Homo sapiens: one gene and its partners. The protein of the gene in region 3 interacts with the protein of the main gene of each other region in a pairwise test. Each region holds a gene or a part of one and is shown on either strand. Other genes may lie near its edges.

Region 1 (7,025 bases), on a different chromosome or scaffold from region 3:
ACTGCGTCTTTCTCTTTAGCTTAGTAAAACTTTAGTCAAATTTATATCTGAAGGTGGTAATATACTCATCTCTAATTTCTTTAAGTACTTTTATTATTACATGAACTCAAGTTAAATATTATGTGTTATGTTTAAATGTATTGATTAGATGTCTGAAGCCCTTTTGGGAAGTAGGAAGGATGATACACTAATCCATGTGGTTGCCCATTGTTTTTTGAAAATGACATACTTGGCCGAGTGCCATGGCTCATGCCTGTAATCTCAGCACTTGGGAGGCCAAGGTGGGAGGATCACTTGAGCCTAGGGGTTTGAGACCAGCCTGGGCAACATAGTGAGGCCCCATCTCTAAAAAAGAAAGACTTTTTAAAATAAGTAAAAATATTTTAAAAAATGAAAATGACATACTCCATTGAAGTTGGATTACAGGCTGTTGTGCAATCTGTAGTTCACAATAAACATGTGATGAGTCTTACTAAGTATCTGTAGTCATTTCAGAGTTCTCTTGTCTCCAGTTATGCCTTCTAGGTCATCATAGATCTGATGCTTTTGCCCACAAAAGGGCAATTTCATTCTTCATATGATATCCAGGTAGTAGTTTCCTAACCAGCTATAGTTATGTCATCCTGCATCTTTAAAAAAAAAAAAAAAAAAGTAATCGTCAGCTGGGCGTGGTGGCACGCACCTGTAACCCTAACTACTTGGGAGGCTGAGGTACCAGAATTACTTGAACCTGGGAGGCCAAGGTTGCAGTGAGCCAAGAACGCACCACTGCACTCCAGAGTGGGCAATAGAGTGAGACTCCATCTCAAACAAAAACAAAAAAAACAATAGTTGTCTTTGGTGAGTCCTGCTTAATATTGCCATACTTCAGTAAACTGTTCAGCAACTCTTGTATATCTTGCTGTTGGCCATTCTTCATGTATATCTATCCCCACAGAAAGAGAGAGGGAGTTGTGGAAAACTTCACTTTAGCATCCTAATAATCTAGTTATATTCTGTAATTTTACTTTTGTTGGGTGTGCTCTGATTCTTGATATAAGTATGACTTTATAAGATATAGGTAAAATAATACTGTAGGTCAGATGTGATAATAAGAGTAGGCTTGAGTCTCAGAACTGTAATGAGTTACACAGCAGAATTTGACATTATATTGGTAATAATCTGCCATCTTAGTCTGGTTTTCCATTTTTCAGTTTATACACTATTATAAAATGCACTGCTTTAGTGGGTTTCTTTGATTAGTTTGTATTGTGCATAATCAAATGGTAAGATATCTAGTGCCGAATAGGTGCTGAGTGAACATCTAAATAAAAGAATGTTGACGGAATGTTCACCACTGGTCTTGTTTGTTGTTCCCATTCAAAGGATTAAAAAGGATTCCTTCTGTTGAATTTGGCCTGAACACTTGCAATTTCAGGTCTAAGCTGAAGTTATTTTTATGGGAGACTGGACATCTTGAGCTGATTTTACTGTTCTGTGCCCAGTCCTACACACAATGAGGTTATTATGTCCTCTTCAACTACCTATTTATCCATCTGCTACTCTTGATTACTTTTGCCCCTTTTGCTCTAACTTGTGTTGTTAGTCGTTTTAATTAATGTGTGTTCTTGTCATCCTTCATATAACCTCAGGCTTTAGTTATTCTGGGTACCATACTTGTTTATCCCAGATTATTTGGTTTTATCAATTTGTAGTATATAATTTCATTAGCATTGATGAGCATCTTATATTTACATTTAACTTCCATTAAAAAAATCAAAGGGGGGGTACACATACTCAAAGTAGTTCTCAACTAATTGCATTTATAAATTGCATGCCTGCCTTAAAATTATCATCATTTGAAAACAGGAATTCCTAGATTTCTGTTTCCATGGATTTTGATTATACTTATAGCCTGAAGAAGTAGAGGAGTTTCCTAGATTTCTAAAACACATTTTGTTGCAAGGTCTCATCTTTAGTTTTAGCCTCAAGGTCACTTAAGAGTGACGTGTTGGAGGCCAGGTGCAGTAGCTAACGCCTGTAATCCTAGCAGTTTAGGAGGCTGAACAGTTTGGGATTGCTTGAGTCCAGAAATTCCAGACCAGCCAGGGTCACATGGCAGAACACTGTCTCTGCAAAAAATAAAAAGTTAGCTGGGCATGGTAGTGCATGCCTGTAGTCCCAGATACTTGGGAGGCTGGTGTGAGAGGATCACCTGAGCCTGGGAACGTTGAGGCTGCAGTGGGTTGTGATAGTGCCACTGTATTCTGGCCTGGGCAAGACAGTGAGACCCCGTCTCAAGAAAAAAAAGTGATATGTTGGTAGGAAATATGCTTTTATGTTGTTTTTCTAGTAGTGGTGATGGATTTGTGTACAATCACACATTTTTACCCATTCCCTTTGTCACTCTTGGCATGTCTGCTGAGACAGCTGGCAAGATTAGAGGTAGAAATTATAGCTGTAAAACAGAGTAAAGCTACCAGATTGAACCTACAACCTTGGCATTATTAGTAGTACCTTGTATCAAACATTGAACATATTAGACTAAAAATTACTTATTTGGATTTCATTACTTAAAAACCCTCAAAGATCTAAGTTCTCTTAGATAAGAAACAATATTGGTCTGACATAGTAATTATGTAGCTTTTCAGAAAGCACATATTTGAAGAATGCAAGTTGATAGTGAACCTGAGACTGGGTCCCGTATATATCTGTATTTTTCCTTTTTATGCTATTATCAATAATTTCCTATTAGTGTAGACCAGTAGTTCTCAAAGTTTGGTCTCCAGGCCAGTAGCATCAGTATCTCTTTGGGATTTGTTAAAAATGCAAATTCTTGGGCCCTACCTTGGACCTAACTGAATTAACATTTTAGGGGTGGAGCCCAGCTGTTGGTGTTTTAGCAAGCTTTCCAGGTGATCCCGATGGATGCTGAAGTTTGAGAACCACTGCCTTGGATCTTTTGCTAATTGGTGCCTTTTGTAATGCAATCAACATTAGTTAAAACTAAGTTAAGGTCTATGTTAGAAGTACTGTAAAACTATTACTTGAGAGCATTTTTGTAAAAATGTTGACTAAAGTAGTAAAAGGTAAAAGTCATCTCTTGTCGATTTATTAGATTTGATTTCTAGGAAATTTCCTAAGGCATTTTTCTTTGAGTAACATAAAACAAGAATATGCGTTTTAGGCTTTTTCTTAAAAATAGATTCTTAGTGAGAAAGATTAGTGGAAACAAGCATTTTTAAAAAAAGTACAGTTGACCCTCGAACCACATGGGTGTGAACTGTTCAGATCCACTTTTATGTGGATTTTCTTCTGCTTCTGCCACCCCTGACACAGCAAGACCAACCCCTCCTTTTCCTCCTCAGCATGTGCAACATGATGAGGGTAACAAACTTTATGATGACCCACTTCCACTTAATGGGTAGTAAATGTATTTTCTTTTCTTTGTGATTGTCTTAATAACATTTTTTTTCATTGTTAGAGTTCAGTATATTGGCGTGCAGCCTGAAATATGTTTTGATGGGCTGTTTATGTTATCCGTAAAGCTTCCAGTCAACAGTAGTCTATTAATAGTTAAGTCTGGGGAGTAGTTTGGGGAGTCAAAATTATATGCGGATTTTCAGCTGCGTTGAAGGTCAGCACCCCAACTCCTGTGTTGTTCAAGGGTCAACTGTATTATGAACAAGTAATTCCAGGAGGCCATCACCTGAACCTGTAAAGTTTGGATTATGCCCAGGGGAAGGAGATAACCTGGATACAGATGACCAGAAAGCAGTAAGTTTATTTTGGAAAGCTGCCAAGTTAATGCTATTGTATTCAAAATCATCAGAGCCAAAGATTGCGTGCGATTCAGGATTTGAGTAATGGAAATTCTCCAGATTTTAGTGTGGAATATTTTTCCTTTGTAAGGAAGATGGTTTTGAATATGTAAAGTACTTGCTATCTTTGTGTCTACTGTTTGATTTAGTTAAATCGGTAGATAATAATTAAACACTATTAGAGGTGATAGTCAAGGATAGGGAGTGATTTTAAAAACCTGCTTTCCACAGGAAGTCAAATTAAAAATGGAACTGTATAAAAAGATAAAGTTGGTACTAGATTATTAAAATAAAAAGGACTAGGGAAGATGCCTTCTTGAAAATAATAACTTCAGTTCCCTTTCCTGTAGCTTTATTATGCAAAGCTAATTGTGCCTGTCCCTCCTAATATGTTTCTATATAGGTACCAATGTTGTCATTAATACAAACTGTTAATAAGCAAGCTTCATAATTCTTCCCTTCCCCAAGTACATAGGACCTATGGCCATAATCACTGGTGAATATTTATTCTTTCAAAGACTCTTACTTTGTGTGAATAACTCTTGGGCTCTTTAAATATTTTTAGTCTAGAGTAAATAAGAGCAAATGCTGTGTATTAAATATATTAAAAATTACCTGTAAAATATATTTTAATTAAAAATTTAAACACTGTTATTTGGAAAATTCTTTTTTTTTTTTAAGTTCTACTTTAGGTTTAGCAGCACATAACAAAATACAAACTGACAGTGGCTTAATATAGGAGATGCTAAATTTTTTTCCACATGAAAGCCTGGAGATAGTCAATACAGATCTAATATGGTGGATCTGAAGTATCAAGGACCCAGATTGTCTTACATTCCAGGGTTACCTCATGAACCAAAATTATTGTTGGAACTCCAGCTATTATATCTTCAGGAGGAAGGGAAGAAGAGGAGCATACTCTCTCTCTTTGAAGGATACTTTTTTGGCAGTCACATGTCATTTTTTTTAACTTACATCCAGTTGGCTAAAACATGGATGGTCCCATGGCCATACGTAGGTAAACAAGAGGCTGGGATAGGCAGTCTCATCTGTGAGGCCTTTGTGCTGAGCTAAATTTGGAGGTTCTGTCACTGAGGAATAGGAGAGAATGGGTATTGGAGTCATAGCAGCTTTTCCCCTTGGGTACAGATGAATCATTTAAAAGAAAGACATTTTCCACCTAAAGTCTGCAATATTTCACTTATGCCAGAGACACCCTTAGAGCTGCAAATGCGATGACCAAAATAGAAAACACACTGAAAGAGAGGAGGTAATACATTGCTGCAGACCAAAAAAGAGAATTGTATCTTGGAGCACTCTGAACTCTTGAGTTTAGCTTTCTATTTTTTTGTGTCTTGTCTTGGGTCAGATTTTTATAATCCTAATCTGGAACCATAAAATGAAAGTGGTACATTTAATATTGACAAGATCATTAAGTGATGGGGAAACAGAAATCAAAGGAAGAATGGATTGCCGTGCTATATTGTATTTCACTTGAAGAGCTCAAGGAATTGCACGGTAAAGTAGTAGTGGTAATGAAGTTGATGGCCTACTCTGCTTACTTCCAATTTGACATCCATTTCCAAGCCATGTATCCATGTATTTTATCCTCTTCTAGAATGTTGCATCGGGTTCTACTTAGGTATTTTCTCTCATTTCAGTTGTAAGGATGTGGTTTCCATAAGGGAAATAAATAAAGCTGACCATTTTAATTTATGAATGCTTTTGCCAATATTCAGTTTGTTTTTATATCTTTGACCTAAACATTTTATTAAAAATGCGGAGACATCTGTGTCTTATATATTCTTTTGTCACCTAACTTAAATATTAATATTTTAAGCATATAATTTCAAACATAAGGAGTTTATAATTTGGATGTGAATAGAAGAGCATATGTATATAAGTCTCCTTTGGATTGATAAAACATTTATTCATCAGGCTCTGAGGATTTAATAGACATTAAGTCAGAAACATATCCATTTCTCTTCTCGGCAGAATTGCTTTTACTGATAGCAGCAAATGAGCAGTTGCTGAGGTAGGGAGGAGGCCTTGTCTGGAGGTTATGCATTAGCAAAAGGGAAAATAACTGGCTGATGATGGGCTGGTGATTACAAGCCTTAATATTCTTGAGCGAGCCAAGAAGCCCAGCAAAGTTCAAAAATAAAATTTTGTTCTCTGTTCTCTGTTACCAATATTAGATAACAACATTCTTTTATCATAACCAAAGGCATTGCCTCAAAATAGCAACACTGAAAACAAGCCTTGCTTTCCTAGTGGTAGACAGTTATAGTAATAATAATGTTAATATTAAACACAACAATAATATAAATAGCACAACATTTATTGCATGCTTACTATGCTGGGCATGGTGCTACATTTCTTCTATGCATTTTCTCATATAATCCTCATAACTGTATAAAGTAGAGAGTGTTAATGTTTCCATTTTACAGAGAAGAAAACGGAAGATTAGAGAGGGTACCTTGACATGTGAATTCAAGTCCATTTGACTTCAGGGTCTGTGTGCTCTAAAGAACACACATGCCTGAAGATCTAGTGCCCCAGGTGCAGACCAAAGCTTTGTAGTTAGAGGGCAGTCCCAGGGCAGGTTGATTGGGTGGTAGTGATAAGGACATGAGTTTCCTTGACCTGCTATTTTGCTGGAGAAGGATAAAGATACAGTATACATTCACCAAGTGAGAGTTTGTATTTGGAGAGAATTTTACCTTTGAATTTTGTTTGCCTTCTGACAGAAAATAGGATGTTTTTTTTTCTTTGCCTGAGATTAAGAGGATAGTATCATTTCATTCATTACCTGATGATTAAGAGGGTAGTATCGGTAGTATCATTTCATTCAAAAGAACAGTTTTACATTTTGAAGATCATGTAAAGTATGAAGCAAGTAATTGCCAAAGCCTCCTCCCCACCACTCCCTGCCCTGCAGGCTTTGCACAATGATTTAGAATATTTTAGGGTTCCTTAAATTTCTGAATTCCCCTAAGTTCCTTTGTGTTTATTTACAGTTAATGTGTTAAGAGCCATTGACATTTGAAGATCATCAGAAGTGAAGATAAAACATCTCAAAAATTATAATGTAAGTGAATGGGAAAATGCAGATATAAAAATGGACAAAAGTTAATATTGCCAACAGTATTTCTGGATTATATATTATCCCAAATGAAATTTGCACTTATGAGTAACAAGTAGTTTCAAACTTCAGTTCCATTT
Region 2 (7,477 bases), on a different chromosome or scaffold from region 3:
CTAAAGCTCCTGGAAGGCCCCAACTCTGGGGGACTCCTGTATCAGACACTGGTTCATTCTTTTCCAGATGACCTTCTCCCACACCCTCTCCTTTCTCACCGGCTGCTGCCAGCTGTCTCCCTTCTTAGCTCCTGGAAACTGGGGCGAGTGGAAGGGTGAAAGGAAGGTCCTGAAGGTGAAATCTGATCCACAGGAGCAAGAGATGAAAACGGAATCAGAGGTGGACCCCAAACCCTCAGGCCTCACCACCAACCCCATCTCCCCCAGTAGGATCCCTTGCCTCATCATGAGGTACCTCTTCTCCCAGAGCCCAGCTTTGTCCCTGGAAGGAGCTCCCAGAAGCACCGACTATCAGCCCCTCAAGGGCACTCACCAGAGCCTGTAGCCTCTGGGGGCACAATGTCCGGCCTCGAGGTCCTGGTCCCTCCAGCCTAGAGAAGCAGGAAGCCCTGGCAGGGTCCAGTCGGTGGGTGGGGGTTCTGGGGGCCAAATATGCAGAGGCCCGAACACCCTGGGACACCAACAGAGGCTGTCAGCACTGCTCAGGATGCCCCCCTCAGTGCCCCCTAGCCTGGTCTCCTCACATCCTGTTTCATTACCTGGACCCTCTGGGTGGTGCCTCCCTGACTTCCTCGAACCAGTACTCTTTTAGCCAGACTAGGCTGGCGCCCCAGGTGACAGCTCTTCACACCCTCACCTGACAGGATGGTGGCCAGGGCTGCAGGGTCAGCCACAAACTCTATGGTCCCTGGAGCCTCTGCAAGGAAAGAGGAGAAGGAAAAGGAAGGGGGAAGGCTGAGGGGGATAGGGCCCCTAGCATAGGAACTTTGAGGTACAAGGTGAGCAAGAGACTCATTCAATTGAATTTGGCTTATTTTTTTTTTTTTTTTTAAGAAATAGATGGCTGGGTGCAGTGGCTCATGCCTGTAATCCCAGCACTTTGGGAGGCCGAGGCGGGTGGATCACCTGTGGTCAGGAGTTTGAGACCAACCCGGCCAACATAGCAAAACCCTGTCTCCACTAAAAAAATACAAAAATTGGCTGGGTGCGGTAGCTCACTCCTGTAATCCCAGCACTTTGGGAGGCTGAGGCAGGTGGATCACCTGAGGTCAGGAGTTTGAGACCAGCCTGGCCAACATGGTAAAACCCCATCTCTACAAAAAACAAAAACAAAAAAAAATTAGCTGGACCTGGTGGCGCGCGCCTGTAGTACCAGCTACTCAGGAGGCTGAGGCTGGAGAATCACTTGAACCTGGGAGGTGGAGGTTGCAATGAGCCAAGATCGTGCCACTGCACTCCAGCTTAGTGACAGAGTGAGACTCTGTCTCAAAAAAAAAAAAAAAAAAAAGAAAGAAAACAAAAATTAGCTGGGTGTGGTGGCAGGTGCTGGTAATCCCAGGTACTCGGGGTGAGGCATGAGAATCGCTTGAACCTGGGAGGTGGATGTTGCAGTGAGCCGAGATCATGCCACTGTACTCTAGCCTGAGGGATAGAGTAAGACTCTGTCTCCACAAAAAAAAAAGAAAAGAAAAAAAAAAAGAGAAAAAGAGATGGGGTCTCACTATGTTGCCTAGGCTGGTCTCAAACTCCTGAGCTCAAATGATCCTCCTGCCTCGGAGGAGTGTTGGAATTACAGGCGTGAGCCACCACACCTGGTCACCAAATGTTCATAGAATGTTACATAAGACACTATTCTAAGCACTGGGGTCCCATAAGAATAAGACAAAGCCCCTATCCTCAAGAGGCTATCATCAAACTATAGACAGGTAACAGACTCAAGCCAAGGTATATACATGTTATAAAAGAAGTGCTGCAAAGTATTAGGAGAACACAGAGCAACTGATTGTGACATGGGGAACTGGAAAAGGCTTCAGAAGAAGTGATATTTATTATTTATTTATTTATTTATTTTTTAAAGAGATGGGATCTCCCTCTGTCATCCAGGCTGGTCTCCAACTCCTGGCCTCCAGTGATCCTCCTGCTTCAGCCTCCTGAGTAGCTGTGATTACAGGTACAAGCCATGGCACCTGGCGAGATGACATTTTGCTGGAGGAAAGGGAGATCTTCTAAGAGCAAAGAGCTTTCCAGGAGCTGGGACCAGGACTATCACAGTAAGTAGGAGACAGCAGGAGTGAGTGCAAAACCCCAAAACCCCACTTTTACCCTTCCTAGTCCCCTACTCAGCCATGGAGGCCGTGTTACCATGGCTCCAACAGGTACCTGTCTGGGCAGGGGGCCCAGGCCCCACATTTTGACCCCTAGGGCTAGGCCTGAGCTCTTCCAAGGGGTTCCGAGGCTGACTGATCCCCACCAATCTTTGTGATGTCTCTGCCTGGTGCCTGGCTTTCGGCCTGGGGCCTGCTGAATCAACGAGGGGGCGTTGAATATTGAGCGGTGGTTTCTGCACCCATCTCTAGGGGAGGGAGCGGGGACAAAAAGGTGAGGTTTAGTGTTGGGGTGCATTACTGGTGTGACTACTGTCTTCCCCCATTAGGCCCCTCTTACCCTTGGATCTTGGTTCTCCTGGTCCACGGCGCACGATGTAACAGTGGGGAAAGGCGTGCGTTTCTGAGAGCGTACCGGAATCTTGCTAGGGGTAGGAGATACACCCCGGAGGAGGGGATCCTTCGTGGCTTGCCGGGTGGTCATGATGGCTACAATTGAGACGGGGAAGAAGGCAGGCAGAATCTAAGATCAAAGATCAACCAGTTCTCGGGGCACCTGTCCTGCCATCCCTGATACCTCCGCCCTAATCCACGCGCCCACAAGCCCCCGGCGCCTGCAAGACCGCTCTTATGGGTGCTATCTCCAGACACCCCGAGCCTACTCTTTCGCCCTCGGGCCCCAAACTGCCCTCCTCCCTATGAACCCAGCAGCCTTCGTTCCCTTCAAGACCCCCGTGCCTTACCTTACCGAGGCCCCTCAGGGCCTACCCAGCTTCCTCCGCTTTTCTCCTGACCCTCTCGGGTGCTGCTGGAGCTACTTTCTCAGTTTGTAAAATACGCCAAGCTCTTGATTGGCCCGGTCGCGCTCCCGCGGAGGCCCGCGTAGCCAGACTCAGCCGTCCAATCCGCGGGCATCGCAGGAGGGGCCAAAAGAAGGACCAATTGTCGAACCGCTTTCTGGCGAGGAAAAAAACTGACTCGGATCAATCAGCCAATCCGAGAGTGGAGCGCCGCTGGGAGGCGGGGAAAGAGGAAGGATGGGGCCGTTCCGAGGCCGGGGAAGGCGTAGCCACGGGAGCTCTCGCGAGGCCTCAGGACCGGCTAGGGGCCGGCCATTGGCAGGACCGGGCGAGGTCGCGGTACTGAGGGTACAGTTGATCGTTCCGATTGCTGCCAACGGTGTTGAAGGCTGGCCCGAGCCCCCGACCCGGCTTGACCATAGCACGGCGCCAAGCTTTGGGGACGCCATTCCAGATGCCCATAGAAAATATCTGCGTCCGGGCGCGGTGGCAGGCGCCTGTAATCCCAACACTTTGGGACGCCGAGGCGGGAGGATCTCTTGAGCTGAGTTTGAGACCAGCCTGGGCAACATAGCGAGACCACTCCCACCCGTTTCTCTACAAAATAATAAAATAATAATAATAATCCCTGTGCAGTGGTGCGCGCTTGTAGTCCCAGCCGCTCTGGAGGCTGAGGCAGGAGGATCGTGTTGAGCCCAGGAGGTTGAGGCTGTAGTGAGCTGTGGTCGCGCCACTGCACTCCAGCCTGGGCAACAGAGACCCTGTCTTAAAAAAAATAAAGAGGGAAAGAGAGAACATCTGTACGTTGTCTCCGGGATAAGGAACTGCCTTCAAACGGGCGGAGAGGGCTGGAGGGAATCGAACTGAGCCTAACAATATGTGTGCTCCTTGGAGCCTCACAATCCAGTGAGGTGTCTGATGAGGTGTCTTTCATTTTACGGGTAGGTAACAAGACTCATTGTTTTTGAACTCAGTTACCACAGCACCAGAATTGAATGGCTACTCACAGCTGGGGATTTCCTTGCCTCCAGGTTGCCTTTTGCAGATCTAGAGGTCTGGGGAGAGGGGGCTCACCTGCTGGTTATTGGTGGGCAAGGCTGTGAGACTGAGAGATCCTAGAATATCCTGCTTAAGATGGAAGGGGTAACCCCTAACGGGGGACAGGAAATGAACAACACTTAACAGAACTCTGGTGGATTTTCCCCACCAATCACAGAAGTTATTCTTACACAAGCCAGAAACCGAGGAGTTACTCCTTAACTCCTCCCACTCCCTTTACATATCCCATCTCTCATTCACTCTCACTAGTTTTACTATTTATGCATTTTTGGGACAGGGTCTCACTCTGTCGCCCAGGCTGGAGTGCAGTGGTGCGATCTCAGCTCACCGCAGCCTCGGCCTCCTGAGGTGGGAACCTCAGCCTCTCAAGTAGCTGGGACTACAGGTGCCTGCCACCAGCTAATTTTTGTGTTTTTTTGTAGAGACAAGATCTGGCTACGTTGTCTAGCCTGGGGTTACAGGCGTCTTTCCCAGCACTTTGGATGGCCCAGGTGGATCGCTTGAGGCCAGGAGTTCCAGACCAGCCTAGACAGTGTAGCAAGATCCTGTTTCTATAAAAAAAAATTTAAAGATACGTAAGGTATCTTTACTAATTGTATGCATCTTTAAAATTCATCTACTTTCAGGCTGTGCGCGGTGGCTCACGCCTGTAATCCCAGCACTCTGGGAGGCCAAGGCAGGGGGATCACCTGAGGTTGGGAGTTCAAGACCAGGCTGACCAACATGGAGAAAACCGTCTCTACTAAAAACACAAAAATTAGCCGGACTTGGTGGCTCATGCCTGTAATCCCAGCTACTCAGGAGGCTGAGGCAGGAGAATCGCTTGAACCCAGGAGGCGGAGGTTGAGGTGAGCCGAGATCGCACCACTGCAACTCCAACCTGGGCAACAAGAGCGAAACTCCGTCTCAAAAAAAAACCAAACAAACAACAACAAAAAGATCATCTACTTTCGGCTGGGTTTATGACTGTAATCCCAGCACTTTGGGAGGCCGAGGTGGGCGGATCACCTGAGGTCAAGAGTTTGAGACCATCCTGACCAACATTGTGAAACCCCGTCTCTACTGAAAATACAAAAATTAGCTGGGCATGGTGGCTGATGCCTGTAATCCCAGCTACTTGGGAGGTTGAGGCAGGAAAATCACTTGAACCCAGGAGGCAGAGGCTGCAGTGAGCCAAGATTGTGCCACTGCATTCTCCAGCCTGGGTGACAAGAGTGAAACTCTGTCTCAAAAAAGAAAAAAAATTTCTTACTTTCTCTTTCTTTCTTTTTTCTTTTTCTTTCTTTCTTTCTTTTTTCTTTCTCTCTTTTTCTTTCTTTCTCTTTTTTTTTCTCTCTCTCTTTCTCTCTCTCTCTCTCACTCTCTCTTTTTCTTTCTTTCTTTTTTTTTGAGACAGAGTCTTGCTCTATCCCCCAGGCTGGAGTGCAGTGGCCTGATCTCAGCTCACTGCAGCCTCCACCTCCCGGGTTCAAGCGATTCTCCTGCCTCAGCCTCCTTAGTAGCTGGGATTACAGGCACCAGCCACCATGCCCAGCTAATTTTTGTATTTTAGTAGAGACGGGGTTTCACAATGCTGGTCAGGATGGTCTCGAACTCCTGACCTCAAGTGATCCACTTGCCTCGGCCTCCGAAAGTGTTGGGATTACAGGCGTGAGCCACCGCACCCGGCCCATCTACTTTCTTGTTCTTTGTTAGCACCACCCTAATCCACCTCAGTCTCACCTAGGCAATTGCAAGAGTGTCTTAGTTGGTCTCCCATCCCCTATTCTCTCTTTCTCTTCACACTCTTCCATTCTCCATATAGCAGCTAGAGTAATCTTTCCAAAATGCACATCAAGTCAGGCTACCACTATCCCTTGACCTCTCCCCACTGAAACCCTCCATCTTCTACCACTCTTCCCCTTCTATTAATATCTCCAACTTCATGGCTTCTTTCAATTCCTCAAGTTTGTCCTGATTGCTCTATATGGTCCCTGTTTCTGGAATGTCCTTTTCACTTCCACTTGGCCTATTTATGCCTCCAAATTGATTCCCATTGTTATTTCCTCAGGCCTTCCTTGCACCCCTCTACCTACCACCCACCCCAATCTAGTAAAGACCTCTTGGCTATGTGCTCGCAAAAAGTAATGTTTGTTTCCTCAGAGCATGTATGTTAGTTGGTAATTATATATTAATCAGTGTGAACATAATATGTTTACTAAACCCAGTTTCCTCCAATAGACCTCCAAGGAGATGATGAAGGTGACCCTCTATTTTTGGCCTACCATCATATCTTTAGTACCTTGCATTATCCTTCGTAAAAGTGCTCAATCCTTGTTGAATGAGTCAATAGATAGATGAATATATGATTGAATGCATCAACAAGGAAGACCTCCAAGAAGAAATAATGTTTGAACTTCCTCTTTAAAAAAATTTTTAAGGTCAGGCGTGGTGGCTCATGCCTGTAATCCCAGCACTTTGGGACACCAAGGCAGGCGGATCACTTGAGGTCAGGAGTCTAAGACCAGCCTGGCCAATATGGCAAAACCCGGTCTCTACTAAAAATATAATTAGCTGGGCGTGGTGATGCATGCCTGTAATCCCAGCTACTCAGGAGCCTGAGGCACGAGAATCACTTGAACCCAGAAGGGAGGGTTGCAGTGAGCAGAGATCATGCCACTGCACTCTAGGCTGGGAGAAAGAGTGAGTGAGACTTTGTCTCAAAAAAATATATATTTTTAATATACACTTTTTTGTATAGAGATGGGGTCTTGCTATGTTGCCTAGGCTGGTCTCAAACTCCTGGGCTCAAGCCATCCTCCTGCCTCAGCTTCCCACAGTGCTGAGATTACAGATGTCAGCCACTGTGCCAGCCTGCTTTTACTTTTTTTGATTAACTCTGTTTTCAGGATTCATCCTTATTACTACATATAATCTAATTCATTGCTTATACCTGCTACATAGGATTCCATGGTAGGCATCCATTATACTTTACTTACCCATTCCTGACTTCTACACACAATGCCAGACAGTTATCTCTTTCATAGTCCCCTGTGAACCAGTTCAAGAATTTCTCTGGAACATATTCCTCGGAGTGGAATTTCTGTGGTAAGGTATATGCATGCTCAATTTTACTAAGTAGCACCAGATTATTTTTCAGAAAATCTGTAGCTGTAAACCGGGCATGGCACACACTTGTAGTCCCAGCTTCTTAGAAGGCTGAGGTAGGAGGATTGCCTGAGCTCAGGAGTTTGAAGCCAGCTTTGATAACAGTGAGACACTCTAAAAAAAACCCTGAAAAACAAAACCAAGCAAGAAAACCCAGGTCTGTAGCTGTTTACAGTCTCAACATCATTACTGAAAGTTCTTATTACCTCATACCCTTTCCAACACGTAATATTATACAACTCTCTAATATTTGCAATTCTAATAGGTATATTAAGTGTACTCTCAGTTATTTAAAATTACATTTCT
Region 3 (7,025 bases):
CCCAACATGTAGAAGTCTTGTGTTCTTAGGAGGAAAGAGACATTCACTAAATACATTTCTGTTACCTTAACAGTTAAAAGTTTGTTTTAACTATTCATTTTTTCCTTCTCCAAAATGAGTGATTCTGCTTTCTATAGCCCAGTAGAAACCATATGCATATTGTAAATCAGAAAAAAAAAATCAAGGTATAGTATCCAAAAAGAGGGCTGTGATGACTCGATGCAGATTTATTTAGAAAGGGAGGCTTATATTCAATTTTTCATAAGTACTGATATGAGATCCCTTTTCCTAGAGACTTCTCTGAATGGATAGGAGAGCCCTGAGCTATTAGATTGTGGCCCCTGAATCACTCTGTGTCTTTACCCCTGAAAAGTTTGAGGGTGAACTTCACTAGAAGGAATCTCACAAACCCTTCTCCTGCTCTACCATACTTTTTCAGCTCGCCTCACTTCTTATAGCTTAGAAAAAAACCAACTCCAATGTCTCCAATATTCTTGGCCAAGGACCACCATCTGCTTTTGGTTTAATGGTGAAGTTAGACTCTAGATAGGCTAATTAGTCAGTGATGCAATATTCTCCTAGACCAGTTTATGTTTGAATAATATTATTGAAATTATCCTGTTTGTCAACATCAACAATTTGAAGGATGTTTAACTTATATCCCAAATGAGTTTAAAGGAGATATCTTACAGTACAACTGATTATATGACAGCTATTCACAAAAGAGACTATGCAATCTGATTGTTGGAACGCATAGAAAAATTAAAATGTCATTTTAATTAAATCTCCTAGATCATAGAATTTTGAAGTTGAGGATGATATTCCATTTATCTGAGTGTTCCCCACAAAACATGGTGCTTTTAGTAGACACAGTTAGATAAAGGAGGTTTGGATGGATGGATGGATGGATTTACTTGTTCAGAATAGGAAGAAACACAAATTTCTTTGGATTTTTTTCTCTAAACTTTCTCTGCCTTAATAGATATTTTTACTCTAATTAATTAATCTTATACTATTGATTCTAATTTGGTCCCAATATTTTAACATTAGAAATATTTTTTAAAAATCTAAATGACTTGGGGTAGAATTTTCAGAAAAGGGCGACTTATATCTAAGTTTCCTAATTATTGATGTGAGGCCCCCTTTACTTGGAGACTCATCTCTGTCATTTGTTCTCATCCTTCATCTCATCAGGTATTCTTTCAAAATGATACATAATAATGATGGTTCTAGTACTGGATGCAGTATATGAAGAAAGGGAATTATATAAAGTATCAAAAGATTAGTGTGTTGGATAATAAAATAATTGCATGAGAAGATGTTTCACATTTATTTACAACTTTTGACCCAAGGACCTATCCCTAAGCTTTGAATGTTTGTGTTTTTCTTTTTATTATACCAATTTATGTGCAAAGAGTTACCTTCTACTTCATATAAATAGTCTCATACTAGAAATTCCATGGAATTCAAGCCAATCCTTACTCGCATTCCTTCTTACGAAGTATACGAACTGAACAAATTTCCTTGCGTAGCAAAGGTGACATATGAAGATAATGTGCTGGCCTCTCATCATAGTCCCTGGATACCGTTGCAAGGTTCCTAATTTGCTTGGTTTGGCATTTCCACAGTCTTTATCTTAGCTCTTTTTTTAAAAATGTACTTAAATTAGTTAATTTGCTGGTTGCTTCCATATTGCTTGATTCAAAATCCAAAATGGAGTTCAGAAAAAGAACAAATAAAATTACAGCTTAAGTGCAAACTACATTTCTGAGTATCTGCCAGGTAGACATACCCAATCCAGTGTGTTTCTTCCAGTTCAATGGATTCCCTCATTGGGCCACCCCTGAAAGTATCAGTAGTTTTCCTGAACCACAGAGAACTGTCTCTTAGTTTCCCTTCTACTCTTCAGACAACCAACGGCCTATCAAGTAGTGTCATTTATGGAGAAAAAAAAATGTTGAAAAATGTAAAGGATGAGGGTGAAGATAATTTGATAGCATGAAAAATATTAGCCTCCCTTTCTTATTTTAAAGATTGTATACTTAAAGTAGTGGCCATTTCACTATATTAAAATATTTCTTGCTTAAATTCTGTGAAGAAGCTTTGATGTAAACATCTTTGCAATTAGAAATTAAAGCCAAAAATAGGGGAGCAAATATAAAGGAATCGGTCAGAGCAAAACAAAATGAAAAAAACCAAAAAGTGTTGAAAACATAATTACTAGTTATAACTTTAATGGAGATTTTTAAATTATGAAAGTTGAGTTGGCCATTCTTACTTGCTAGGACAGAAACTGCTGGGGAAAGAAACTGGATTCTCAATTTCAGACACCATCATATGTTATAGAAAATGTTATTCTTTTGTTCTAATGGAAACTTTATTATGATTTCCAGGGATGCTAAATATGCACACATCAGTTCCTGCAGATAGGAACAGATAGCATGGGTGTTTCAACCATCTGCTTTAAAAAAAAAAAAAAAAAAGAAGAGGAAGAAAGAAACAAAGAAAGAAAAAGAAAAAGAAAAAAAGTGACAGCTAGTTTGATAGTAGGCAGCATTGCCTTACATTTTCTGGTCCTTCTCTAGCTGTTTCATTCTCCTGACCAACCCATGCAGAGAAATGAAGAAACATTGTGGTTCCTCCTATCTTTCTCTTTCAGTCTTTCCCTCTAATGTTCAAGTTAGGTAAGCACATAACTATCATTGCATCTCTGTATCTTCCACTGGGAAGTGTCAAAACTACTGGCCTTGGGGTAGAAGGAAGACCACCAGAGAAAGAGAGGGGGGTGGGGAAATTGGAGCAGGTGTGTCTCTCCACCTAAAAAACCACAACTGAGCTTACACCACAGTATTCCGGTGTCTGTAAGGTGGAGGCGGCAGCACAGTGCCTGGCTTCAGGGAGAACTCAGAGAGGTATTCAGGATTCTCTGCCACAATAGGCCGGATCCGCCCATTCTGTTTATAAAAATATTTTGTGCTGTACTCCTGCAGGTAGTCTGGGTGCTGAAGGGTGCTCCGAGGTGGCAGGCTGTGGTTCCAGTAGTCAGGGTTGTCAAACGCTTTCTTGGCCTTCTCTGGCATTGACAGTATGTTGTTCTTCAGGTACTCAGCTTTTCCCAAGGTGTTGGCAAAGGTGTTGAGGTACAGTGGCTCATTCACATACTCATCCTCGGCCTTGGGTGGACCATTGGATGCATTGTGATATTCGGGATTATCCAATGCTTGAAGGTCTCCATTTTTTCTCCGAGAAACAAAAGGGTTCTCCTCCACTGGATTCAGGTATTCTAAAGGAATAAAAAAATATCAGCTAACCTCTAGTTTCTGGAAAATATTAATCAGACCAAGGTTATACATAATGGTTAGCTTCTTTGTCTAGAACAAAAAAACCCACAGATTTGTTTTCATGATTTCTCACAACAAGTATTTGTGGATCACCATTGTCTTATGAAAAAAAGAGTAAGTGGGTCAAAAATGTTTATAATAAAACAAGAAGCCAACGAGGCCAGAATCAGAATTTCTATCTCCTAAATTTTTCTTTCTTTCTAATTGCATTTGTCTCTTCTGCATATGGGGCTGGTTGTTTCAATGTTTTTGTTTTCTAAAAGTTATTTATATTAGGAAATAAGACTACCTATTAGGATTAAATAGTCTTTAAATATACAGACAACTTAACTTCTATAAAGGATATTGAAAAAACAAGAATCTATAGCTGAGTTCCATGCCAAGATGAATAGATGGAGTGAAGAAATCATGTTTTTTAGTCTCTATGGTTTGCTATGATTGCCTATACTGGTAACAAGGATTTAATTGGAGATGCTTCTGAAAAAGGTTTTACACATGGAAAAGAAAGCATCAAAGGAAAAAAATTCAACTAAAAAAGCAAATCTAACAGATAGCTAACATGCCTCTAGTTGACCTGCTTGACATTACATATACTTCTACTTAATAGTAAAGTATAATTATAATATTTCCATTGACCAATCATAATCACAAAGTAGCAAACTATCAGCTTGAATTATATAAAATAAAATAAATTTTGTATATTGAAACCAGTCAATTAGTGCCTATTTTGTACGGATCAATCTAATAAATCCATCTAGTATAGGTATTGGCCTAAAAGGTGCTAATAATTATCACCATTCTCCTGAAGCTTAATTCCACATCTATGTCTATAATATAGACTGCACATAGACATAAACACGCATGTATTGTAAGTCCTCTGACAGTCCTCTCTTTTACTATATACACAAAGCCCTAAGCTATTCCTATTTTGAATTCAAGGCATGAAGAGGGCACAATTCTTTGTTGAGAGGCCATTCTGAAACAAACTTTCTGTCTTTTATCCTTAGCCCAATAAGTAGAGAGAAAAATCCTATTAAGTGAGGATTATTTTTCTCCAAATATATATATACAGAATAGGTAAGTATTTAGCATCATTTATTCAACTTAAAGGGCAGTAATGAATATCCCACTATCATATATAGGCCTTTACAAGACACTATCATTTCATCCTCCCAATTCTGTGAAAAAGAAGTACAAGACTTATTTTTCCAGCTTTGTAGACAGAAAAATGAGATTAAATGATGTGTGCAGGATACAATTAGTGTTGGGATAGAATTCAGGTCTTCTAACTCCTCTTGCATAATCTTCTTATTCTACTGCACTGTTTTTTATTATTGCCCCTGCAGGAGTTGGGTGAACTTTATGCTTAGTAACAAGTTTTAATTTGACAAGTGTATGAAAACATTTATAAGGAATGCAGAATTTGGTCTCTCTTACCAGATTCCTTAAACTTCTTAATTGAAAGAATAGGAATGTCTACACTAAAATTCTGTACTCTCTGAGTACGAGGTTAGACTATAGCAACCTTTTATAGAAACGGAGCTTAGTGTTCAGAGATAAAATCTGAGAATACAGTGTGACTCTATAGGGTGACTTGCTTTTCTCTTCACCTTACCTTTCCTCAATGCAATCTACTTATATATTGTCCTCATGCAAACTTATATAGCTGTCCAATAACTTTACGGTTGGAGTGAAAATCTCCCCAGAAAAGATTCTTCTTTGGGGTGAATCTGCCAAGTCTTCACAACGTCTACATTTGTGTCATTACTAGGCTACTATGAGCATCCAAACTCTTCATTACATTTTTATATGTATAGAAGTTTTAGATATGTAAAAATTTTATCTAGACAGATATATTTTAAAAGGTTATTTACAATTAGAGATCTCTAAATTTTACTTTAAAGGAGAGAACATAACCATATACCAGGCCCTTCTCAGAGTCTTAAAATGTAGTTTACTGTTGACACTAAAGACTGCGAGAGACATGATCATCATTTTTTAATAACAATCATCTATCTTCTCTGTTGTGATACTGTTAGCATAGAAGAAGAAAGGCTGTTTTGTTGCAAAATTGAAGCATTATTTGATTTGGGTGCTTAACATTTCTACTACTAACTTTACAAAATTATTGTTATGCTTTGTAAAACCACAGATTATTATTTTCAAATCTTGGTGGTATGCTTGTAAGTATATACAGGGTCAAACCTTTAATTTTTGAAAAACGTCATATAAGAACATAATATTTTCCTATAATAAACTAGGTTGTTTAAATGTCATCATTTAAATGAGTCAAACAAATCTTTTATTAGTGCCATCAAAAGCATCAGGCACTTTTGCCAACAATACCAGTCTTTCTGATCTCCGCAATTAAGTCCAATAAAGCTATGGTCCTGACACTTTGTAGTATGCTACTTCATTCAAATATTTCAACAAAATATGTTTAGAATAGTGCTTCTCAAGACTGATTGCTGTATGCAGATAGCCTGGGGATCTTGTTAAAATCCAGATTCCTATTCAGACGGGGCCTGCCTGAGATTCTGATTTATATAAATAATAATAAATAATGTGGATGCTGCTGATTCAGGGACCATACTACAAGTAGCAGTAGCCTAGGCCTTTACTGGATCACAAATGTTGTGCTGGTCAGCTATCTGGCAATTTCTATTCTGTACTTTGTTTATCTTGATGGAAGTGAACTTCGAATGGCGATCGTTTCTGAATAATCAGTTCATACCTTGTTTGGGTTTGTCTCGCATAGGAGTCATGTAACCTTCCTCATCCAGCTCTCCTCGTGGGCTCCGTTCTGGGGCAAACACGGTGGGGTCAGCACTGTACCTCTGGGTGCTACTGTCCTCTTGGACATGGGGTGCCACTGGCTTGCGTAGGGTGCCATTACAGCAGGAGTCATCAAAAATCTCAGCAGTAGCACCCTGTGCCACAGGAGCTTCTGGAATTGTGCTAGTTGGGGCTCTGTAGGGCACAGACACTCCTTGTTCAGCAGCAAAACCTCCATCTCGGTATACAAACTGGTTCTGTTAATAAGAGAAACATATGTGGAGAGAAGGCGTTGTTAGAAATAGTTTAAAAATGAATGTTAATAGCCACAAGGATATCAAAGCCAGTCTTTCAGAGAATAGTCATAGTATTTACTGGTTTTTTTTCCCCTAGTGGCTAATGGAGTTACAAACTATAAACACCTAAAATTTCCACTTTTCTTAAAAGATAAATCATCAGAAAATAATTTTGAAATACACATTCTAGTTTTATTAACCAACTGAAACATATTCTAATAAAATGTATTTGATGCCCTTTTCCCACAAGTGCCTATATTTAATACAAATTTCAAAGTGAATTTTTATGATAAATGCAAGTGTCATTAATTATAGACAGTTGTCATTAAGAATAGAAGTACATGGATATATTTTGAATAATCCTATGTCTTTATTCCCTTCGAAAATTCTGTGGTTATTATGAATTTGAGGCTCTAGTACCTAACTAGAGGATCATCACTATAATTCTGACTTTTTAGTACATGACCAATAATCAGGGAAGTAAAGATCACCTCCACATCCAGAAGCATAATTTATGTGCCCAGGTAAATCCTTCAGATAAAAATTGAAAGCTACTGTTGATGCATGATATCTCAATTTCGGATTATCAGCTGAGATAAAAACACATCTACAA
Region 4 (7,025 bases), on a different chromosome or scaffold from region 3:
TCAGCCTGTCTCTACAAAAAAATTAAAAAGTAGCTGTGGTGGCGTGTTCCCGTGGTCCCATCTACTCGGGAGGCTGAGGTGAGAGGATCGCTTGAGCCCGGGAGGCAGAGGTTGCAGTGAGCTCTGATTGGACCGCTGCACTCCAGCCTGGGCAACAGAGAGAAACCCTGTCTCAAAAAAAAAAAAAGAAAAGAAAACAAAAGAAAACAAAAGAAAAGAAAAACAAACTAAATTACTATGAGAGATTTTATGTAGTCCATCAGATACAATTTTTTTTTTTTTTGAGGCAGAGTCTTGCTCTGTCGCCCAGGTTGGAGTGCAGTGGCATGATCTTGGTTCACTGCAACCTTTGCCTCCTGGGTTCAAGTGATTCTCCTGCCTCAGCCTCCCGAGTAGCAGAGACTACAGGCATGTGCCACCATGCCCAACTAACTTTTGTATTTTTAGTAGAGACTGGGTTTCGCCATGTTGGCCAGGCTGGTCTCGAACTCCTGACCTCAGGTGATCCGCCTGCCTCGGCCTCCCAAAGTGCGGGGATTACAGGTGTGAGCCACTGCACCTGGCAGATACAAGGTATTTTCATTTTGACTTGTAATCAATATAAAAACGATCATTCAATATATACACCAAGTATATACTCACACACACACAAATATATATAAAGGATCAATGAGACAGTTGACATTCTTAATTTCATACGAACTCTTCGAAAGCCGGTGTGGATCTTCCACTAACGGCTCATCTCATTTCACAAAAGCCACCTCACGGTGCTCAACACTCACGTGGAACTCGTGGCTGCCACACTGGACAGTGCAGAGCTGGGCCTCCCTGCCTCTACCTGCTGGATGCAACGGTTAAGGAAGGGCTGGAAAGTTTGAGGGCCAGAAACTACAACTGATTTTCCCTCCTGTGCTGGTTTTCAGCTCCCAACCCAGTGAGGAACCTGAGAGTGGAGGCTCAGACCAACAGCTCCATCGCCCTGACCTGGGAGGTCCCCGACGGCCCAGACCCACAGAACTCCACCTACGGGGTTGAGTACACTGGAGATGGTGGCAGAGCAGGGACTCGAAGCACAGCACACACTAACATCACCGTGGATGGACTTGAACCCGGGTGTTTGTATGCGTTTTCCATGTGGGTGGGAAAGAATGGAATCAACAGCTCCCGGGAGACTCGAAATGCCACCACAGGTGAGAGGCAGTCGCCATTTGTTTTGCTCTTACTTGTTTAAGGGGCAGTAGGCAGGAGAACGTAGCGGATTTCTATTCCATAGTCCCTCTGGGCCACATTGAGCCAGGTACTCATGTCCACATCCTGGGGCAGTCTCAGCTCAGGAGATGAAGAAGGAATGAATGTCCATGGTACCTCCAGCTGCTAAGCTGGGGCCGGTCTGTGTCTAGGACTCTCTAGAATGTACCTTCCTGCACCAAGAGGAATGTGTAGGGGCCAAGGCATGTTACCTGAGCTTTCAAGGAATTAGATACTGTGAGTGGGGACACTCTGACCCTCTGACTCTTCTTCTAGTCCCCAGCTGCGTCACATATTGAGGATGGAAACTCAGATCATCAGCTCCATGATCCTGATGTGGAGAGCTCCCTCTGGCTAGATCTCCATTGTCCGATATGGTAGCCACCAGCCACACATGGCTATTAAATTTAAGCTCGTTAAAGTTGCATGAAACTGCAAATTCAGTTTCACATTTCATATGTTTGAAAGCCCTGTTGAAGGGCTTCCATTTCCTTCTCTGTTCTCCTACCATACTGGAAGGTGGGAGAGCATTTCCATCGTTGCAGAAGCTCAGTTGGAAAGCGCTGGCTCAGGTCTTTGTTACTCAAAGTGTGGTCCATGTGTGGGCAGCATCCGGGTCTCTGAGAGCTGATGGAAATACATTGGCAAGTGACACTGGTGGGGGAGAAAAAGGGTGGGGGGGAGTGCAGTCTCTCAGCTCCATCCTAGCCCTGCTGAGTGAGAACCTGCATTTCACAAGGTCCCCTGTGAGATGTGCACACAGCAAAGAATGAGAAGCCCTGGTCTAGACCATAAACTCTGCATCTACTGGCACCAGCTGTTGAGGGACAACTAGGAACTCTGATGATCAAAAATGCCCACTTGGCCAGGCATGTTGCCTCACGCCTGTAGTCCCAGCACTTTGGGAGGCCGAGGTGGGAGGATCACCTGAGGTCAGGAGTTCGAGACCAGCCTGGCCAGCATGGTGAAAAAATATAAAAATAAGCCGGGTGTGGTGGTGCAGACCTGTAGTCCCACCTACTCGGGAGGCTGAGGCAGGAGAATCGCTTGAACCCGGACGGCGGAGGCTGTGGTGAGCCGAGATCGTGCCACTGCACTCCAGCCTGGATGACAGACAGAGACTCTGTCTCGAAAAAACAAACAAACAAAAAGCTCACTGGCTGCCCCCGTTATGTTCTGTAGTCCTGCTCATATTAGATCTTTCTTCCTAATTTCTCAGCTCACAACCCAGTGAGGAACCTGAGAGTGGAGGCTCAGACCACCAGCTCCATCTCCCTGAGCTGGGAGGTCCCCGATGGCACAGACCCACAGAACTCGACCTACTGCGTTCAGTGCACTGGAGATGGTGGCAGAACAGAGACTCGAAACACAACAGACACCAGAGTCACCGTGGATGGCCTTGGACCCGGGTCATTGTATACGTGTTCTGTGTGGGTGGAGAAAGACGGAGTAAATAGCTCTGTGGAGATTGTCACTAGTGCCACAGGTAAGAGGCAGCCGCTGTTTTATTTTTATTTCTTTTATAAGGACAGTGGTAGGGGGTGGTTGGGAGCTGACAAAATGTGACAGGTTCTTTAGTCCAATAGAAACACAGTGGAAGCCACAGGTGAGAATTTCAATTTTCTATCAGCCACATAAAAATAAGTACAAAGAAACTGGTCAGCCTGTCTCTACAAAAAAAATAAAAAAGTAGCTGTGGTGGCGTGTTCCCGTGGTCCCACCTACTCGGGAGGCTGAGGTGAGAGGATCGCTTGAGCCCGGGAGGCAGAGGTTGCAGTGAGCTCTGATTGGACTGCTGCACTCCAGCCTGGGCAACAGAGAGAAACCCTGTCTCAAAAAAGAAAGAAGGAAGGAAGGAAGGAAGGAAGGAAAGAAAGAAACTAAATTACTATGAGATATTTTATGTAGCCCATCAGATACAATTTTTTTTTTTTTTTTTTTGAGACAGAGTCTCCCTCTGTCGCCCAGGCTGGAGTGCAGTGGCGCAATCTTGGCTCACTGCAAGCTCTGCCTCCCGGGTTCAGGCCATCCTCCTGCCTCAGCCTCCCGAGTAGCTGGGACTACAGGCGCACACCGCCACACCTGGCTAATTTTTTGTATTTTTAGTAGAGACGGGTTTCACCGTGTTAGCCAGGATGGTCTCGATCTCCTGACCTTGTGATCCACCCGCCTTGGCCTCCCAAAGTGCTGGGATTACAGGCGTGAGCCACCGTGCCCAGCCCTTTTTTTTTTTTGGGACAGAGTCTCTGTCTCCCAGGCTGAAATGTAGTGGCATGATCTTGACTCACTGCAACCTCCACCTCCTGGGTTCAAGTATTCTCCTGCCTCAGCCTCCTGAGTAGCTGGGACTACAGGCATATGCCACCATACCTGGCTAACTTTTGTATTTTTAGTAGAGACGGGGTTTCGCCATGTTGGCCAGGCTGGTCTTGAGCTCCTGACCTCAGGTGATCCGCCTACCTCAGCCTCCCAAAGTGCTGGGATTACAGGTGTGAGCCACTGCGCCTGGCAGATACAAAATATTATCATTTTGACATGTAATCAATATAAGGAAAGGATCATTAAATATACACACTGAGTATATACCCACAAAATATATATATATATGTGTATGTATATATATGTGTGTGTATATATATGTGTATGTGTATATATATGTGTGTGTGTGTGTGTGTATAGGATCAATCAGATAGTTGACATTCTTAATTCTTAATTTCATACGAACTCTTCGAAAGCCGGTGTGGATCTTACACTAACGGCTCATCTCATTTCACAAAAGCCACCTCACGGTGCTCAACACTCACGTGGAACTCGTGGCTGCCACACTGGACAGTGCAGAACTGGGCCTCCCTGCCTCCACCTGCTGGATGCAATGGTTAAGGAAGGGCTGGAAAGTTTGAGGGCCAGAAACTACAACTGATTTTCCCTCCTGTGCTGGTTTTCAGCTCCCAACCCAGTGAGAAACCTGACAGTGGAGGCTCAGACCAACAGCTCCATCGCCCTGACCTGGGAGGTCCCCGATGGCCCAGACCCACAGAACTCCACCTACGGGGTTGAGTACACTGGAGATGGTGGCAGAGCAGGGACTCGAAGCACAGCACACACCAACATCACCGTGGATAGACTTGAACCCGGGTGTTTGTATGTGTTTTCCGTGTGGGTGGGGAAGAATGGAATCAACAGCTCCCGGGAGACTCGAAATGCCACCACAGGTGAGAGGCAGTCGCCATTTGTTTGATCTCTTATTTGTTTAAGGGACAGTAAGCAGTAGAATGTAGACGATTGTCTATTCCATAGTCCCTCTGGGCCATATTGAGCCAGGTACTCATGTCCACATCCTGGGGCAGTCTCAGCTCAGGAGATGAAGAAGGAATGAATGTCCATGGTACCTCCAGCTGCTAAGTTGGGGCCAGTCTGTGTCTAGGACTCTCTAGAATGTGGACCATAATGCCAAGGGGCACCTTCCTGCACCAAGAGGAATGTGTAGGGGCCAAGGCATGTTACCTGAGCTTTCAAGGAATTAGATACTGTGAGTGGGGACACTCTGACCCTCTGACTCTTCTTCTAGTTCCCAACTGTGTCACATATTGAGGATGGAAACTCAGATCATCAGCTCCATGACCCTGATGTGGACAGCTCCCTGTGTCTACACCTCCATTGTCCAATATGGTAGCCACTAGCCACACGTGGCTATTAAATTTAAACTCATTAAAGTTGCATGAAACTGCAAATTCAGTTTCACATTTCATGTGCTCAAAAGGCCTGTTGAGGGGCTCCCAGTCCCCCCTTCATCCTCCACGGTGCTAATGCCTACCATATTGGAAAGTGAGAGACTGTCTTCATCACCACACAAAGCTCCCTTGAGTCTCTCTTATTTTTTTCTTTTTTTTAGAGCTGGAGTCTCGCTTTGTCATCCAGGCTGGAGTGCAGTGGCAGGATCGTAGCTCGCTGCAGCCTCAAATTCCTGGGCTGAAGCAATCCGCCGACCTCAGCCTCCCAAGTAGCAGGGACTACAGGCGTGGGCCACCATGCCTGACTAATTTATTTTTTTTAGAGATGAGGTCTTGCTGTGTGGTCCAGGCTGGTCTCTAACTCCTGGCCTCAAGCAATCTCCCTACCTCAGCCCCACAAATTGCTGAGATTACAGGCATGTAATCTCACATGAAATGTGAAACTGTGCTGGGCCATTGGGCCTCTCTTAGGCAGTAACCCCAGGCATAAAGGCTTCACCTTTATGACCTAATCTTGCAAGGGCCCTACCTCTTAATGCTATTCCATTGGAGATTTTTATTTTGTTTTTTTTGTTTGTTTTTTTTGTTTGTTTTGAGACGGAGTCTCGCTGTGTCGCCCAGGCTGGAGTGCAGTGGCGCGATCTCGGCTCACTGCAAGCTCCGCCTCCCGGGTTCACGCCATTCTCCTGCCTCAGCCTCCCGAGTAGCTGGGACTACAGGCACCAGCCACCACGCCCGGCTAATTTTTTGTATTTTTAGTAGAGACAGGTTTCACCGTGTTAGCCAGGATGGTCTCAATCTCCTGACCTCAGGTGATCCCCTTGCCTCAGCCTCCCGAAGTGCTGGGATTACAGGCGTGAGCCACCACGCCCGGCACATTAGTCTGAGAAACACGGTCTAGAACATACACCCTGCATCTGCTGGCACCAGCAGTTGAACAAGAGCTAAGATGGTTGAGGGCAGTGAGGGGCCCACTCCTGCCCCGTTCTGTTCTGTATCTCCGACAACATAGGATCTTCTTCCTACTTTCTCAGCCCCCAACCCAGTGAGAAACCTCCATATGGAGACTCAGACCAACAGCTCCATCGCCCTATGCTGGGAAGTCCCCGATGGCCCATACCCTCAGGACTACACCTACTGGGTAGAGTACACTGGAGACGGTGGTGGCACAGAGACCCGAAACACAACAAATACCAGTGTGACAGCTGAGAGACTTGAGCCCGGAACCTTGTACACATTCTCTGTATGGGCAGAAAAAAATGGAGCACGTGGCTCCAGGCAGAATGTCAGCATCTCCACAGGTAGGAACCCTCAACGGCCACTCCCTGTTTTGGTGAGAGGTTAAGAACCAGCAGGAGCGGCGTGGCACCTCTTCTGGGCTCTGGCTCTGTAGTCCGTAGGCTCTGCAGACATCTGCCTCTCCAAGTCCACAGGACAGATGTAATCACAGCTGGGGGCTGGCTCTGCCCTGAGGAAGAAGAGAGCCCATCCAGACTTCTCCCGCTGAGTGTGGGGCTGTGGGGACACAGGCCTTTTCTTTCTTTCTTTCTCCTTCCCTTCCCCTTCCTTCCTTCCCTTTCCTTCCTTTCTTCCTTCCTTTCTCGCTTTCTCTCTTTCCTTTCTTTCTTTCCTTCCTTTCTCTCTTTCTTTCCTTCTCTTTCCTTCCTTTAAAGCCTTCCTTCCTCCCTTCCCTCCTTGTTCCTTCCTTTCTCTCTTTCTCTTTCTTTCCTTCTTTCTTTCTTTTTTTCTGTCTCTCTCTCTTTCTTTCTTTCTCTTTCTCTTTCTTTCCTTCTCTTTCCTTCCCTCCTTCCTTCCTTTCTCCCTCCCCTCCTCCCTCCCTTCCTTTCTCTCTTTCTTTCTCTTTTCTCTTTCTTTCTTTTCCTTCCTTCCTTCTTTCTTTTCTTTCTTTCCTTCTTTTCTTTCTTCTTTCTTGAGACAGAGTTTTCCTTTGTCACTCAGGCTGGAGTGCAATAGCACAATCTCAGCTCACTGCAGCCTCTGCCTCCTGGGCTCAAGCAATTCTCCTGCCTCTGCCTTCCAAGTAGC

The links.
Region 1: the proteins of ERBB4 (region 3) and MTMR2 interact in a two-hybrid assay, tested with the Homo sapiens proteins (one study listed by BioGRID and IntAct).
Region 2: the proteins of ERBB4 (region 3) and TROAP interact in binary tests that used the Homo sapiens proteins (3 or more experiments, as listed by UniProt).
Region 4: the proteins of ERBB4 (region 3) and PTPRH interact in a two-hybrid assay, tested with the Homo sapiens proteins (one study listed by BioGRID and IntAct).

Annotation. Positions count from the first base shown.
Region 1 is NC_000011.10:95,914,108-95,921,132, reverse strand, and holds part of MTMR2 (phosphatidylinositol-3,5-bisphosphate 3-phosphatase MTMR2), read left to right. Parts: intron 1-3,646; exon of another isoform or gene 3,647-3,756; intron 3,757-5,169; exon of another isoform or gene 5,170-5,318; intron 5,319-6,820; exon of another isoform or gene 6,821-6,891; intron 6,892-7,025. UniProt on the Homo sapiens protein: Lipid phosphatase that specifically dephosphorylates the D-3 position of phosphatidylinositol 3-phosphate and phosphatidylinositol 3,5-bisphosphate, generating phosphatidylinositol and phosphatidylinositol 5-phosphate.
Region 2 is NC_000012.12:49,318,781-49,326,257, reverse strand, and holds the start of TROAP (tastin), read right to left. Parts: upstream 3,004-7,477; 5' UTR 2,909-3,003; intron 2,655-2,908; 5' UTR 2,650-2,654; coding exon 2,506-2,649; intron 2,414-2,505; coding exon 2,221-2,413; intron 2,112-2,220; exon of another isoform or gene 2,104-2,111; coding exon of another isoform or gene 1,984-2,103; exon of another isoform or gene 1,870-1,983; intron 1,767-1,869; exon of another isoform or gene 1,682-1,766; intron 758-1,681; coding exon 600-757; intron 512-599; coding exon 374-511; intron 183-373; coding exon 100-182; intron 1-99. UniProt on the Homo sapiens protein: Could be involved with bystin and trophinin in a cell adhesion molecule complex that mediates an initial attachment of the blastocyst to uterine epithelial cells at the time of the embryo implantation.
Region 3 is NC_000002.12:211,380,778-211,387,802, forward strand, and holds part of ERBB4 (receptor tyrosine-protein kinase erbB-4 isoform JM-a/CYT-1 precursor), read right to left. Parts: intron 6,374-7,025; coding exon 6,076-6,373; intron 3,284-6,075; coding exon 2,838-3,283; 3' UTR 1-2,837. UniProt on the Homo sapiens protein: Tyrosine-protein kinase that plays an essential role as cell surface receptor for neuregulins and EGF family members and regulates development of the heart, the central nervous system and the mammary gland, gene transcription, cell proliferation, differentiation, migration and apoptosis.
Region 4 is NC_000019.10:55,199,491-55,206,515, reverse strand, and holds part of PTPRH (receptor-type tyrosine-protein phosphatase H isoform 1 precursor), read left to right. Parts: intron 1-923; coding exon 924-1,190; intron 1,191-2,467; coding exon 2,468-2,734; intron 2,735-4,193; coding exon 4,194-4,460; intron 4,461-6,013; coding exon 6,014-6,280; intron 6,281-7,025. UniProt on the Homo sapiens protein: Protein phosphatase that may contribute to contact inhibition of cell growth and motility by mediating the dephosphorylation of focal adhesion-associated substrates and thus negatively regulating integrin-promoted signaling processes.